Linked DNA regions of Homo sapiens: region 1 is linked to region 2. Evidence: fine-mapped expression QTL. Tissue or cell type: whole blood. Region 2 holds a variant in brackets; the other region holds the start of a gene. All regions are shown on one strand. Distances are from middle to middle.

What was found. PIP is the estimated chance that this variant, and not a neighbour inherited with it, causes the effect. A credible set is the group of variants that fine-mapping cannot tell apart.
Region 1: GGACT starts here. The variant in region 2 is the best candidate, but not a certain one, in a credible set for the expression of GGACT in whole blood (INTERVAL, PIP 0.74).

Annotation. Positions count from the first base shown.
Region 1 is chr13:100,583,695-100,591,683 of GRCh38, reverse strand. GGACT (gamma-glutamylamine cyclotransferase) reads left to right here and starts at 2,895. Exons shown (of 3, transcript NM_001195087.2): 1 at 2,895-2,943; 2 at 7,687-7,859. RefSeq lists a silencer at 2,743-3,262.
Region 2 is chr13:100,550,096-100,558,084 of GRCh38, reverse strand. All of the region lies in intron 2 of GGACT (gamma-glutamylamine cyclotransferase), which reads left to right. Among named protein-coding and RNA genes, the nearest start is that of GGACT, 35 kb to the left of the region's middle. The variant G/TG (reference allele first, on the strand shown) is at 4,242.

The DNA.
Region 1 (7,989 bases), 34 kb before region 2:
AGTGAGTGAGATCTCACAAGATCTGGCTGTTTAAAACTCTGTGGCACCTCCTCCTTTGCTCTCTCTTTCTCCTTCTCTGGCTGTTTAAGAATTTAAGATGTGACTCTTTCCTCTTCACCTTCTGCCATAATCGTAAGTTTCCTGAGGCTTCCCCAGCCATGCTTCCTGTACAGCCTGTGGAACTGTGAGTCAAACCTCTTTTCTTTATAAATTACCAAGTCTCAGGTAGCTCTTTATAGCAATGCAAGAACAGACTAATACAGGTGCATAGTGATTTGCTGACTGCATGACCCTAAGCCTAGAGGATGTGAGAGTTTGTAAAAAGGCAGAGCAAAGGGGCCAGAATGAGCAGCTGAACCCTTTGCAGTGAATGACTCAATTGTACCATTTGGACACAACCAAACAGACTTGGTGAGTCGACCCAGTTCCTAAAAGCTACCAGAGCAGTTGGCTTGCCAAGGGATCCTGAATAACTGACCAACCCTAAACTGACAAGCCCGGGACCTGCTTAGATTGACCAGTCTATTTCCTTGAGGCACTTTGTGAGTTTTATCTCTATGAGACCCAAGCTTTGCTGTGGAGCTGTCTTCACAGTGACAGCACCCTGGAGTGTGTCTATACACAAGAAAATCTTCACTTAGCACCCTCTGTCCACCTGCAGAATCTTAGACCCTACTCCTGGCTAGCTGAACCAGAATCTACATTTTAAAACAAGACCCTGGGTTGACTGACGTGCACGTTAAAGTTTGAGAAGCACCGAGGTACATCCTCAAAAGGCGATGGTTTTCAAACTTGAACTGGCATCACTCATTAGAATGTCCATCTCTGGGCCCCACCCCCAGACTTGCTGACACTGAGTTGACCCCCAGAGTCAGGACACCTCCAGTGTGGCTGGAGATTGTGCATTTCTAAATACCCAGGTGCTGCCAGTGCTGCTGGACTGGGACCACATTTCAAAAACTGCTCTTCAAACTGTGAGTTGTTTTCCAAGAAGTTAAACTGAAGGCTTCATCCCACAGAGCCTATTCTATGTTAGATTGGGCTTCCCCAGCCTTATCTGGGATGCAACTTAACACTTGTCTTGGCTAGGCACTGTGGCTCATACCTGTAATCCCATCGCTTTGGGAGGCCAAGGCGGGTGGATCGCCTGAGCTCAGGAGTTCAAGACCACCCTGGGCAACATGGTGAAATCCTGTCTCTACCAAAAAATACAAGAAACTAGCCGGGCGTGATGGTGGGTGCCTGAGGTCCCAGCTACTCAGAAGGCTGAGGTGGGAGGATCACTCGAGCCTGGGAAACAGGGGTTGCAATGAGCCAATAACATGCTACTGTACTCCAACCTAGGTGACAGAGTGAGAACCCATCTCAAAACAAACAAAAAATTCGTCTAGTCTGCGTCATCTTTAATTTTCCTTTATCAGAAGAATTATTTATCTATTTGTCTCACTTTCCTTTGCTGACATGATTTTCCCCCCTCAAAAAAGAGATGAAAGTGGAATCATTCTTTCGCTTCAAAAAGTTAAGAATTACTGCTGTCTTTAAAAATATTAATATGAGGCCGGGCGCGGTGGCTCACGCCTGTAATCCCAGCACTTTGGGAGGCCGAGGCAGGCGGATCACGAGGTCAGGAGATCGAGACCATCCTGGCTAAAATGGTGAAACCCCGTCTCTACTAAACATACAAAAAATTAGCCGGGCGTAGTGGCGGGCGCCTGTAGTCCCAGCTACTTGGGAGGCTGAGGCAGGAGAATGGCGTGAACCCGGGAGGCGGAGCTTGCAGTGAACCAGATCCCGCCACTGCACTCCAGCCTAGGCGACAGAGCGAGACTCCGTCTCAAAAAAAAAAAAAAAAAAAAAAAAAATATTAATATGAGCTAGACAAGGTTTTTTAATACATTTCAATTTAATTATGAAGTGTCCAAGACAAGAAAAAACTGTGAAAACCAACGACTTATGTACCTGATGGTTTAGATTTCTTTTGGAATTGTACATCTGTTCAAAATACAATTACATCTGCATTGTTGGAAACGTTTGGATAAAAACCAGTTTATATAAAGGTTTCAATCAGTCCACATCCATGAGAAAGTAGAAAGGGCAGGAAATGATTAAGGGGGATTATTGCTAATCTGATAAACACAGATTTGTGTCTTTCGGAGAGACAGAAGTGTCACTCTCTCCATAGCTGTACCATTCCTACCACCTGGCCCCCAAGTGGCATTGCTTTAACCCATTGTCTCTAGGGAAAATGTTCTCTTTCGATTTTGGTTCTCAGTCCTATAATTTCTGGGGCTTAAATTAGTCCTGGAGCTAGGGAAGAGGTGATGTCATCCTTCCATTGTCTCCTTCGGCCACAGTTTCATTTTAAGAGTATTGGTAAGTAAGTGGGCAGTGTGACTAGATGGCGGTCTGGACTCGGTATCAGGGCTGTGTGCATGCCCAGCTGGGGGGCCTTGGTGGTGTGTGATGTGATAGATACACACATGGTTGGCATCCCCAAGTGTGTCTGCGCTTGGGTTCATTTGTGTGTGCATGTGTGTCCATTTGATGTGGCGTGTCCCCAAGCTTGTGGAGTCGTCTGTGAGTCTGTTTTGTGGGGTGTGGCCCAGGTGTGTCAGGGTCCACCATGCAGTCGGGGCTTGAGCCTGAGTGCCCAGGTGTGTTAGGGTGGATGTGACTTCTGTGGGGCGTCCCCAGGTGTGTGAAGCTGGTTGCGCTGTGTCTGCGGCGGGGCGTCTCCGGCGGGCATCGGCGTGGGTGGGTCTGGCTGTTAGGCGGCCAGTTGTGCGAGCGGCCACGTGTGTGCGAGGGCGCCGCAGGGGCTGGCGGGCCTCGCGTTCCGCCTGCAGGGGGCGCCGCCGGGGGCGGCCTGGGAGCAGAGGCGCGGGCCCGGCCCTGCATTTCCGCCCTGGCCCTGCCCTCCCCGACAGCCCCGGCTGCCGGCAGGTGAGGCGCTGAGCCCGGGCGGGGGTCGGGGCTGCGCCTGCTCCGCCCCCCAGGCGGGGTGTCCTGGCGCCCGCGGGAACCTGGGGCGTCGCTCCCTGCGCGGCGTCCGGGTCGAGGCCGCAGCACTCGGCGTCCCCGCGGGTGAGGGAGGAGGCCTGGGGCGCCGCCGGCCGGCGAGGCCAGCCGGAGGGAGGGGACGGTGGACCCCGAAACGCGTCCTCCATTGCCCCGCGCGGGGGCCACGGGCGCGATTGCCAGAACGGGCAGAGGGCGGTAAAAGCCAGGAACCGCCTCACGCACGGGCGCTGCTTCCCTGTAAAGGAAGCGTGACAGCCCACACGCTGGCTTTCAGAGGACCTCAGCTGAACCGGGCTAACACTTCTCAGAAATTGTTTTTCATTTTAAAGATTTCCTGTTTGTAAGGAGACTAGAAGCTGCAAAAGAAATCTAAAAACGTCTCCTGGCACTTGTGAATTTCTGATCTAAGGTTTCTTTGGAGCCATTAGTGAAACTTCTGAAATTTTGAAGAAATTTACTGCCTTGATTATTAATTATGGTTATCATTGCTGTTTTACTCTGTGGGCCAAGGACAACGCCACAAGCTCAAAAGCAGACTTAAGTGTTTTTTGAACACAGCTTCTTAACTCCACGCTTAGTTGATTTAATATTTAAGTGATAAGAAAATGCAGTCGATTTCTGGCCCTTTTTATTGTTTGGGATGAAGTCTTGCCCTGTTGCCCAGGCTGGAGTGCAGTGGCGCGATCTCGGCTCACTGCAACCTCTGCCTTCCGGGTTCAAGCGATTCTCCTGCCTCAGTCTCCCGGGTAGCTGGGATTACAGGCGCCTGCTATCACGCCCAGCTTATTTTTGTGTTTTTAGTAGAGACAGGGTTTCACCATGTTGGCCAGGCTGGTCTCGAACTCCTGACCCCGTGATCCGCCCGCCTTGGCCTCCCAAAATGTTGGGATTACAGGCATGAGCCACTGCACCCGGGATTTGTGGCCTTTTTTAAAAGCAAGTTATTCGTTTTGCTAAATGTCCCAGGAGAAATGATTAATGAAAAACTAAAGGTGACCTATTTAAAGTGTAGGTCTTACACACACGTAGGTGTCCTTATGTACATTTACCTGTAAGTGAAGACTTTTCCCTGGCCTCATTCAATTTATTGAAATGCTCAGATGAAGAGCACCTGCAGTTTGCCCGTATTTTCCCAAAATGCCTTGTTTTCCTGAAACTATTCCCAGAAGAAGCCAGACTTCCCTGAATAAGCAGACCACTGTGTTCTAGCAGAGATTCGTATTGTAAAAGCTGAGTTTGCAAAGTTAAATTAATTTCTAATTGGTGGATTTTTGTACGGAAATACTTTGGGCTAGTTGATTTTACTAACCAGGCCCTAACTACTACTAGTTAGGAGAGGGTGGTTGTTTGTGGTGATCTGGATAGTAGGTAGCAGTAAGCAGAATAGAAGAGGGATTTTAAAATGATCTGTTCATTTCTCTCTTTACTAGTAAGATTTCCAATCTGTGTCCATTCTTGAAGTGAAGTCATTGGGAGGCTTTGTATCCACCTCGAGCCAGGGCCCTTACCAGTGATTAGGACACCAGCAGGCTGGTGTGGAAGTGTAGTGCAGCCATGCTTGAAGAGGGGACAGGACCCAAGGAAAGGTGACAGTAAGAGGACAGAAACACGAAATATTCGCAGCCCTCTTTAGAACATCCTCCATCTAGGCAAACTCTATTAGGAATTTTAAGAGTTCTCAATTAAACATGACTGCCCAGTGTCCTGCTGAACAGGAATTCATTCTTCAGTTGAAGCTCTATTGTCAGTAAAACTACTCAGGATAAGGCAGCCGTGTTTAGGCCGTGAGGACCTGCCCCTGGACTGCGGAGCTTGCTCCGTAAAAGGCATCGTGATACCCCCTTAAATGGATTTACAGAAAAGACTTAGCTATTGGAAGTCTCTGGGATTGTATGGCATCATGAGGTAACAGACCTGGTAAATAGCTAGAACGTAGCGAAGAATGAAACCAGAGGCAGTGTGCTGTTGGAACTGAGAGGTGAGTGCTCACTGGAGGGCCAGGAGAAGGTCACAGTTGGGGAGACCTTAAGCAGAGAACAGATTTTTATAGGCACAGGAATGGAAAGGGTGGCCAACACCATGAGCAAAAATAAGAAGCTGAAAATGACAGTGTGTTCAGACAAAGGTGAACAACTGGCGTGCTGAGGCTGGACTCCGCGAGAGGAGGGGTGGGGTCGGGGGTGGGGGTGCCTGGAAAGCAAGGCTCTCCAGTGATAACCTCTACATTTTGATCAAGGTTCTGATTTTGTTTGTTTGTTTGTTTTGCTTATTGGGAAAATTTTAAGCAAACATAAAAGCCCAGCAAAGTAGAATGAATTTCCATATATCCATCAAATGGACTTCACAAGTCTTGTTTGGCCATATCCACTTCATCTTTTTTTTTCTTTTTTTGGTTGTGGCTGAAGCAGTTTAAAGCAGTTTATTCCAGACAACATAACACTTCACCCCTAAATTGTTCAGTATGTTTCTCCAGAGAAAGGGCATTTGCTTGTGTAACCATAATACAATTATCACCTCCTGATGAAATTGACAATAATTCCTTAACATTTTCTAAAACCTAGTCCATGATCAGATTTCCCTGATCACCTCAAAAATGAACTTATTTTTACTGTTGGTTTGTTTGAATCCACATCCAGACAAGAATTTGTTGACTGTTACCTTTTTATTTTATTTTATTTTTTGAGACAGGAACCAGCTCTGCTGAGATCATGGCTCACTGTAACCTCGAACTCCTGGATTCAAGCCATCCTCCCACCTCAGCCTCCTGAGTAGTTGGGATTACAGGCATGTGCCACAATGCCCAGCTATTTTTTTTTTTTTTTTTTTTTTTTTTTTTTTTTGGTGGAGACAGGTATTGCCCAGGCTGGTCTTTTTTTTTTTTTTCCTTCCTGAGACGGAGTCTCACTCACTCTTGTCACCCAGGCTGGAGTGCAGTGGCACAATCTTGGCTCACTGCAACCTCCGCCTCCTGGGTTCAAGTGATTCTCATGCCTCAGCCTCCCAAGTAGCTGGGACTACAGGCGCATGCCACCACACCCAACTAATTTTTGTATTTTTAGTAGAGACGGGGTTTCACCATGTTGGCCACACTGGTCTGGAGCTCCTGAACTCAAGTGATCCACCTGCCTCTGCCTCCCAAAGTGCTGCGATTACAGCCGTGAGCCACCGTGCTCAGCTGTTGCCCCTTTCAATCTAGGGCAGGGGTGGCAGATGTCTCTGTGAAGAGCCAGATACCAGCTCTTTCAGGCTTTGCAGGCCCTATGGTCTCTGCCACAACTGCTCAGCTCTGCCATCGTCATGCAGAAGTAGCCAGGGGTGATAGTAAATGGATAAGCATGGCTGTGTTCCAATAATACTTAATTTCCAAAGCTTTTGTGTTTTAAAATCCACCCACAGGCTGGACTTACCCGCAGGCTGTGGTTTGCCGACCCAAGTCTAGAGCAGCCTTGGCGGGTTTCCTCAATACCAATGACTGTCGATGTTACTTGGTTGATTGCCTGTAGGGTGCCTCACACTCTGGATCTGTTGGGCTGCTTTTCGTGGAGTGTGGTTTGGCTTGCTTCTCTATCCCCTATATTTCCTGTAAACTAGAAGTTAGATCTAGAGGCTTAATTAGGTTCATGCTTGCCATTTTTGGCAAGTCTACTTCAGAAGTGGTTTGACTTTTTTTAAATCTAAATTTATCTGACTTTAAAGACTTGGAAACCCTCATCAAAGAATCAAAGAAGCTCAACATTACCAAAATAGGAGCTCAGCATTACTAAAATTGGCTTTGCCTGATGGCTGAGAAGACATTTTTTCTTTTTCTTTTTACTTTTCTTATTTGTAGGAGAGTATATAGAGCTGTTATTTCTCAAATAGTTCTTTTTTGATAGTTAATTTTTGTGGGTACCTAGTAATAGGTGTATATGAGATACAATGTGTAATAATAAACCCTCATTACAAGGTATATGAGATACAATGTGTAATAATCACATCAGGGTAAATGGGGTATCCATCACCTCAAGCATTTATCTTTTGTGTTACAATCTAACGATACTCTTAGTTATTTTTAAATGTATAGTTACATTATTACTGACTATAGTCACCCTGTTGTGCTATCAAATACTAGATCTTATTCCTGCTTTCTGTGTTTTTGTACCCATTAACCATCTCTGCTTTCCCCCAACCCCCCTACTACCCTTCCTAGCCTCTGGTAACCATCATTCTGATCTCTATCTCAGTCAGTTCAATTGTTTTAATTTTTGGCTCCCACAAATGAGTAAGAACATGCAAAGTTTGTCTTTCTGTGTCTGGGTTATTTCACGTCACATAACGACCTCCGGCTGCACCATATTGTTGCAAATGACAGGATCTCCTTTTTAATGGCTGAATAGTACTTCATTGTGTATATGTACCACATTTTGTCAAGGAGGTCTTGAGAACTTTGAACCCTTTCTCTAGGTCACTGGGAAGGTTCCTCTATTCAAGGCATTCTTTGGCCCCTCAAGCATGTGGACTGCATTTTTGCACTGAATATAAGTATATTCCTTCCCTGGGTATGTGCCCAGGGTCTGAGATTGCCTTCTAATGGTAGTTAGGTCATTTATGTTTGTTTGTAAGCCCCTTATTGCTTAAATGTTTAACTTTCTTCAGTTGACTTCCTCTTATCTCACCTCCCAACAGGACTGAAAACTGGATATTTGGTCCCCATGGACTTTCTGGTCACCCTGTGAAGTGGACTTAACTTTTTCTTGAATCATGTGGAAGGATTCTGAAGTCAAAAGTTTTTAAGACTCTCAGGCTTACTGTGGATCTGGATTCTAAGGCAACACTTCCTTGAAGAAACAAGCTTACAGGTGAGAACTGTTAGCCTCTGTTCTAGAGTGTTCATTGCTCAAATTCTAGAGCACCACAAGAAGTATGCTGACAAATAGTGCCAGTTGGAAGCCCTTGTCTCTTTGTCATTTAAGAATAGTAGTGGTGGGG
Region 2 (7,989 bases):
CCTCAGCCTCGAGAGTAGCTGGGATTACAGGCATGTGCCACCATATCCGGCTAATTTTGTATTTCTAGTAGAGACTGGGTTTCTCCATGTTGGTCAGGCTGGTCTCAAACTCCCGACAGGTGATCCGCCCGCCTCGGCCTCCCAAAGTGCTGGGATTACAGGTATGAGCCACCGTGCCCAGCCTTTGTTTTGCCTACTTTTAATTGGATTGTTTTTCTTCTTCTTGAGGTGTGAGAGTTCTTTGTATATTCTGGATAACAGTCCTTTATCAGATAGCTATTTTGTAGATATTTTCTCTGTCTACATTTGCCTTTTCATTTACTCACCCGAGTCTTTTGAGAGTAGGTGTTTTAAATTCTGAAGTCAAAACTTATTCATGTTTTCTTTTATTATTTGTGCTTTTTGTGTCCTATCAAAAGATTTCTAGAAAGTTTAACTCTTATATTTGGATACATTTTGAGTTAATTAGTGTATAGGGAGTGAGATAAGAGGTTTTTAAAAATCTATTTTTTTTGCATATGGATATGCAGTTGTTCCAGCACCATTGTTTAAAAGTCTATAGATTCCCCATTGAATTACTTTGGCATCTTTATTGAAAACAGTTGACCCTACAAGTAGGGGTCTACTTCTGGACTCTGTTCTGTACCATTGATTTTTTTAACTAGTTTTTGTTTTTTAATTGAAGTAATTCACACAACATAAAAGTCACCACTTTAAAGTATACAAGTAAGTGGGTCTTAGTATATTCACAAAGTTGTGCAGCCCGCACCACTAATTCCATATCACGTTATCTCAAAAAGAATGTTCCATCAACCTTAATGCATATCTTTTCTCTAATTCCACACTGTCTTGTTTATTGTAACTTTGTAGTTAAGTATTGAAATAGAAACTTCGGGCTGGGCATGGTGGCTAAAGCCTGTAATCCCAGCACTTTAGGAGGCCAAGTCTGGCAGATCACTTAAGGCTAGGAGTTTGAGACCAGTCTGGCCAACATGGCAAAACCCCATCTCTACTAAAAATAGAAAAACATTACCAGGCGTGGTGGTGTATGCTTGTAGTCCCAGCTGCTTGGGAGGCTGAGGCATGAGAATCGCTTGAACCTGGGAGGTGGAGGTTGCAGTGAGCCAAGATTGCAGTGAGCCAAGATTGCATCACTGCACTCCAGCCTGGGCAACAGAGCAAGACTCCACCTCAAAAAAAAGAGAAACTTTGTTCAGCTTTTTCAGTGTTGTTTTGGCTATTCTAGATCCTTCAAATGTTTATATAAGTTTTATTTTTTAATTTTTGTGGGTACATATTAGATGTGTATATTTATGGGTTACATGAGATGCTTTGATACAAGCATGCAATATGAAATACGCACATCATGGAGAATGGGTTATCCATGCCCTCAAGCATTTATCCTTTGAGTTATAAACAATCCAGTTACACTCTTTAAGTTACCTTTTATATAAATTTTAGAATTAGCTCATCAATTTCTACAAAAAAAAAACCCCTGGGATTTTCATTAAGATTGTGTTGAATGTCTACCTCAATTTGGGGAGAATTAACATTTTTACTGTGAAAATTATCCATCAAAACATGGTATATCTCTCCATTTATTTAGATACTAAAATTCTCTCATCAGTGTTTGGAATTTTCAGTGCACAGGTCTTGCACATATTTTGTTCAAACAATTGGACCCTAAGTATTTCAGATTTTTTGGTGATACTATAAATGATAATGGATTTTTAAATTTCAAGTTCCAGTTTTCCCCTGTTAGAATATACAAATACAATTGATTTTTGTATATTGGCCTTATATCCTAAAACCTTGCTAACCTCATTAGTTCTAGTAACCTTTTGGTAGATTTTCTTAGGATTTTCTGTACTGACAGTTATGTTAACTGCAAAAAAGATAGTTTTCTTTCTTTCTGAAGTGTATGCCTTTTATTTCTTTTTCTTCCTTTATTAGCCTGGCTAGAACCTCGAGGATTTAGAAGTAGGAAGAGTGGACGTCCTTGCCTTGCATCCAGTCTCAAGGGAAAGTACTTGATTATTCACTACAAAGAGAAGGATGTTAGCCATAGGTTTTTCAGAGACTTAACCTTTTTAGTAGATCGAGGATGTCCTCTTTGATTTCCAGTTTGCTAGGAATTTTTATCTCAAATTTGCTGAATTTTATCAAGTGCTTACCCTGTATTTATTGAGATCGTCATGTGGTTTTTCCATTTTAATCTGTTTCTATGGCATGGCAATTCATTGACTGATTTTTAAATATTAAACTACGTTGCATTCCTAGGATGAAACATTAGTAATGATGTATTATCCTTTTAACATATTGTTGAATTTTGTTAGTATTTGTTCAAGACTCTTACATTTATGTTTATGATGGACAGTGGCCTGTAATTTTTTCTTTTCTTTTTCTTTTTTTATTTTTTGAGACAGCGTCTCTCTCTCTTGCCCGGGCTGGTCTTTAACTGCTGGCAGATGATCCTCCTGCCTCTGTCTCCCAAAGTGCTAGGATTACAGGTGTGAGCCACCATACCCAGATTTTTTTCTTTTTAAAAAAAACCTGAGATGGGGTCTCACTCTGTCACGCAGGCTGGAGTACAATGGCACAATCACAGCTCACTGCAGCCTCGACCTCCTGGGCTCAGGTGATCCTACCACCTCAGCCTCCCAAGTAGCTGAGACTGACTACAGGCATGCACCACCATGCCCACCTAATTTTTTGTATTTTTTGTACAGACAGGGTTTTGCTGTGTTGCCCAGGCTGGTCTGAAACTCCTGGACTCCAGCAGTCCACCTGCTTTGGCCTCCCAAAGTGCTGGGATTACAGGCATGAGTTACCATGCCTGGCTGTAATTTTCTTTTCTACCAATGTCTTTGATTTGGTATCAGGTACTACTGGCTTCATAAAAGGAGTTGAGAAGTGCTCCTCCCTCTTTGATTTTCTGGAAAATTGTTTGGTATTTATTGGAAAACATTGGTATTATTTCTTCCTTAAGTGTTCAATAGATTTCACCAATGAAGCCATCTGCCTCTGGGCAAGGGTTTTTAACTGTGAGTAGATACAGGGCTTTGCAGGTTATCTACTTCTTCTTGAGTGAGCTTTGATACTTGAGACCTTTTGAGGAATTTTTCCATTTCAGTTAAGTTGTAGAATTTATTGGTATAATGTTGTTCATTATGTTCCCTTATTATCCTTTTAACGTTTGTTTTATAGTGATGTTCCCTCCTTGATTTCTTATACTGATGATTTCTTTTCTCTCTCTCTCGTTTACCTATAAAAGTAATAGAGCAGTACAATGATTCTCATATATCCATCACCCAGTTTCAATAACTATCGAGCCTTTGCACACATGCCTTATCAATTCCCTCTTTTCTTTGATATGCTGACATATTTTAAAGTATGTTCCAGACGTGATATTTTCAAATGCTAGATACTTCCATATGCGTCTCTGAAAAAATAAGGATATTTTCTTACAGGACCACAATGCCATTACCATACCTTAAAATATTAATCGTGATTCCTTGGTAGACTCTTATTACCTAGATTTACCTGTAAGATTTTCCTAAGTGTCTCAAAAATGTCATTGTGTATAGGTCATATCTTCAAATCAGAATCCAAACAAGGTCTGTACATTTACCCATGGCTGTACCTGAAATCGTTAATGTAAGGGAAATCACCCTCACTTTTTCTAATGCAATAAACTGTCTTATAATCATTTCTCCCCTAAAATGCCTCACATTCTGGATCTGTCTGCTTCTAGTTGGTATCATTTAACTTTTCTGCAATAGGAGTTTTTTCAATCTGAGAGGACTAAATGATGACTTGGAACTTTCTGAACCCCTGAGAAATGTACCTTGGCTTTCATCCCCTGGGGGAACATAAAGGAAGGGTGGGCAACTGTCCATCTCAAGACCTGGGAAATATCTGGTTTCTGTGTCCAGTTCAGGCCAGGCAATGTCCATGAAGCCTTTGATCTCCATCACCTCTGAATTCCACTTAATTATGTGTAGTACTAACTATATGTAGTAATTAATTATGTATCTTTGTTCATTGTGTTTCCTTTGTGTAGCTCTGGCCCTTGAAAAATCTGTCCTCTACTGTTAATCTTTGTTTTTAAGGCTTAGTGTACATTTTATGAAAGTATACCATACGTTAGAAGAGTGCAAGATTCCTGTGGACACACTGTGTACCTGGCCCCTGGCACAGAGGTTCATTTTGGCTGTTACTACCTTTTTTTTTTTTTTTTT[G/TG]AGATGGAGTCTCGCTTCGTCACCCCCGCTGGAGTGCAGTGGCGCGATCTTGGCTCACTGCAACCTCTGCTTCACTGGTGCAAGCGATTCTTCTGCCTCAACTTCCCAAGTAGCTGGGACTACAGGTGCACACCACCACGCCTAGCTAATTTTTGTATTTTTAGTAGAGATGAGCTTTCACATTATTGGCCAGGCTGGTCCCGAACTCCTGACCTCATGATCCAGCTGGCTAAGCCTCCCAAAGTGCCAGGATTACAGGCGTGAGCCACCATGCCCGGCCTGCTACTTCTTTACCTTCAGGTAAACTTGTCCTGCAGTGTGTGCCCTTGTCTGGCCGCTCTCAGGTGGTGCTGCTCATGGTGAATGCCATCGTGTTGCTGCCCCTATTCATTCTTGTTGCCATAGAGTATCCCAGGTATACCACAGTTGACTGGCCCATTTGACTGTTGGTGGACATTTCAGTTGTGTCTGCTTTGGGGATATGACACCTGGTGCTGACCAGCACATTCCCATTCTTGCCATTTTGGTGAACCTGCATTCACATTTTTGCCTGCATCTGCCTGGGAGTGGAATTGCCGGTCCTTGGGGACACACAGGCTCAGCTTTCCTAAAACTGCCACGCAGTCTTCCCTGGGGATTCACTGCACAATATTTTAAAACCCAGATCTTGCCATGCACCTCCCAGGCGTAGTGCCCTCGAACGGCTCTCATCACACAGAAGCCGAAATCTGACTCCATAAGATACCATGGAAGGCCCTTGGAGGCCCGGGCCCTGCCTCGCCCTGCCTGCTGGCATGCTTTCTGTTCCCCCAACAGCCCACCGTCCCCTCTGCTCAGGTCCCCCTCCCCTCCCCAGCCACCCGCCACCTGGCCTGCCTGCTCCTGGGTATCCCCAGAGGCTCTACTGCTTGCCTGGGTCGCCCTCTCCTGCAGGACACTTGACACCTGGTCCTGATGCGGGACTCATTGTCCCCACTCTAGAGTGTCCTCTCATCAGCAGCACTCAGCATCTCTGCCACCCCACCAGGCTGCAGCTTTTTACGAACAAGGACTGTTGCTTTTTCTGTCTTTGGATGCCTGGCCCGTCCTAGATGCTCAGTACCTCCTGAATGAGTGAATGAATGAATGGCCTGTCAGCCAGCCTGGACGTCCTGAGCACTGGGCAGATGATCTTAACAGAAACATTAAGTGGCTGGCAGGCACTCCTGGCCTTAGAAAACCTTTACATCTAGCTTTGGTTTTTAAAGTTGGAAAGAAAAGGACTCAAAGCACAGCCCCTTGCACAGGAACAATAGGTGGGGATTGATAACAAGGCTCACGACAGGTCACCGTCTTGACATCTCAGAATGGTTGTGTTTGCTGGGAGAACCAGCTAGAGCTTCAGTCTCTTCTTCAACAGAGAACTTCCCCGTCTGTTTCTCCTAGTTGACCACAGAGTATGTTGGGGGGTGGCGTGTAGATTTTGGATCAATCCCTGGCTTAAATCCAGCCCATAACAGCTTTGCTGTGTCAGTTAAATAACTCTTCTGAGCCTCAGTTTCCCATGTGTGGGATGGGACAGTAACACCTGCCTCGTCACGGGGCTGTTGGAGGCCCAGTTTGTGAATTCCTCATTTCCCCAGGAGAGAACAAAATCAGTTCCTGGAGAGCCCCTGACAGCCCCCATCCATTGAATTTTCTTCTTCTCTCCTGGGGAAATTAGAAATTCACAGGGCAAGTTTCCACCAGGCTTTGCCTTCCTGAGAGATCTGGCCTGGACCACACTCAAAGCTTGCCCTGCACATGGCTGGGAGAAGGGTCAAGGGCCCCTCAGGTGCGGGTGGCTGTAGAGCCAGCATGGTCTGGAGGGAGTGTGCCCACAGGGAGCTACCCCAGCCAGGCAGCACCTCCTTTCCTTCTGGGGTGCTAGGCCAGGGGAGGAGGTATAGCCTACCTCTTTGTACTGGTCTTGCCCCCTCTGAGAGACAGAGACCTGCTCCCTAGGGAATTGCCTTTAGATGGGGGCAAAGGGAAGGGAGAGAAATTCCTTAACCTGAAAATAAGTATAATCATTGTTATATTAAAACAACGCCAAATTTGCATGAATTTTAAAGAAAAACCCTGTACATCGAAGGGATGGGAGCACCTTCTTTGGGCAGCTGTGCCCCGTTCCTCAGCCCTTCTCTGCCTGGGCACAGGTGCCCCCTGGACAGCACAGCCTGGGGGTCCTGGATTTTAGGGGACCCACTCAAAGGGCCAATAAAGGGTTGAACACTTTTAAGGTGCTTCAACTAGGAGTTTAGCTACCCCTTAGCTATTTTGTGGTTACTGAAGCATGGCCCCCAGGAGAAATCCCTTTTTCCTTCTTTTCTGGGAAGTTCCTGGGAGCCGAGGGGAAGTCTGTTAATACCAGTTCTGGCAGGTGGGAAGAGGCTAGTGGCCTCCTCACCTTGCCACGGGCGCTGGTCCCTCCCTGGGGAAAAGGTTTTCTTGGCTTGGACAGCTTAGGGGCAGAGAGGAGAACATCCTTGGTTTTATCCTGTCTGTGTATATATACATTATGGGTTTTTGTTTTTTTTTTGAGACAGAGTCTCGCTCTGTCGCCCAGGCTGGAGTGCAGTGGCGTGATCTCGGCTCACTGCAAGCTCCACCTCCCGGATTCATGCCATTCTCCTGCCTCAGCCTCCCGAGTAGCTGGGACCACAGGCGCCCGCCACCACACCCGGCTAATTTTTTGTACTTTTAGTAGAGATGGGGTTTCACTATGTTAGCCAGGATGATCTCAATCTCCTGATCTCATGATCCACCCGCCTCGGCCTCCCAAAGTGCTGGAATTACAGGCATGAGCCACCGCGCCCGGCCTTGTTGTTTTTTAATTAAGAAAGTAGTTTTGGATGAGAGAAATGATAAAACTTTTATATACTCCTCCCAAAAAAGTTAAATGCCTCACATGTGTGAGCTGTTCAATTCAGAAAATGGCTGAGTAAACATGATTTTAACTTCATGACTGAAAGAACACTGTAAATTTGGGGAGAAAAAACAACAACTCCATAATGAAAAACAAAGCGGCTGTTCTGCTGTTTCTGAAGCGAGTGGATTGGAGAAAGCGCCTCAGTGGGAGGAGCCGCCTCTCTCCCTAATAACCACACAGCAACAGCTGGGGCTTTGCACGTTCTCTCGGGGCATTCCACTGTCTCGGGAGTGGCCTGTGCGTGGGCCTTTAAGTGCTTTTTCAAAAGCCAAGTATATACCCAAATGTGCTTTTAAATAATGTCTAGGGTCCTGGGTTCCACCCCCAACACTGGGGAGGCCAAGGAGTTGTAAACCCAAACACTGGCGTGTTTGGCTGCAGCCTGGCCTGGCTTTTGTCGGCGGTTTCTGGCTATAATGGTGCTTTTAAAAGTGGTGTGTGTGTGTGTGTGTGTGTGTGTGTGTGTGTGTGTGTGTAGAGTATAATCGGCTCGGATTTAATTCATTCAGCGCATCCAGTTTCCTTAGAAGGGCCAGTGGTGTGTGTGTGTGTGTGTGTGTGTGTGTGTGTGTGTGTGTGTGTGTGTGTGTGTGTAGAGTATAATCGGCTCGGATTTAATTCATTCAGCGCATCCAGTTTCCTTAGAAGGGCCAGTCCCTCCAGCTCAATGCCTTTTTCTGGAAGTTTTGGCCTCAGAATTCAGGCTGTCCGGCCAGCACACAGTGGCCGGCCGTGCGTTCACGTTCAGGACTCACAGGAATGTGGCAGATGGACCCACTCTGTGCAGGGGCTGTAGAA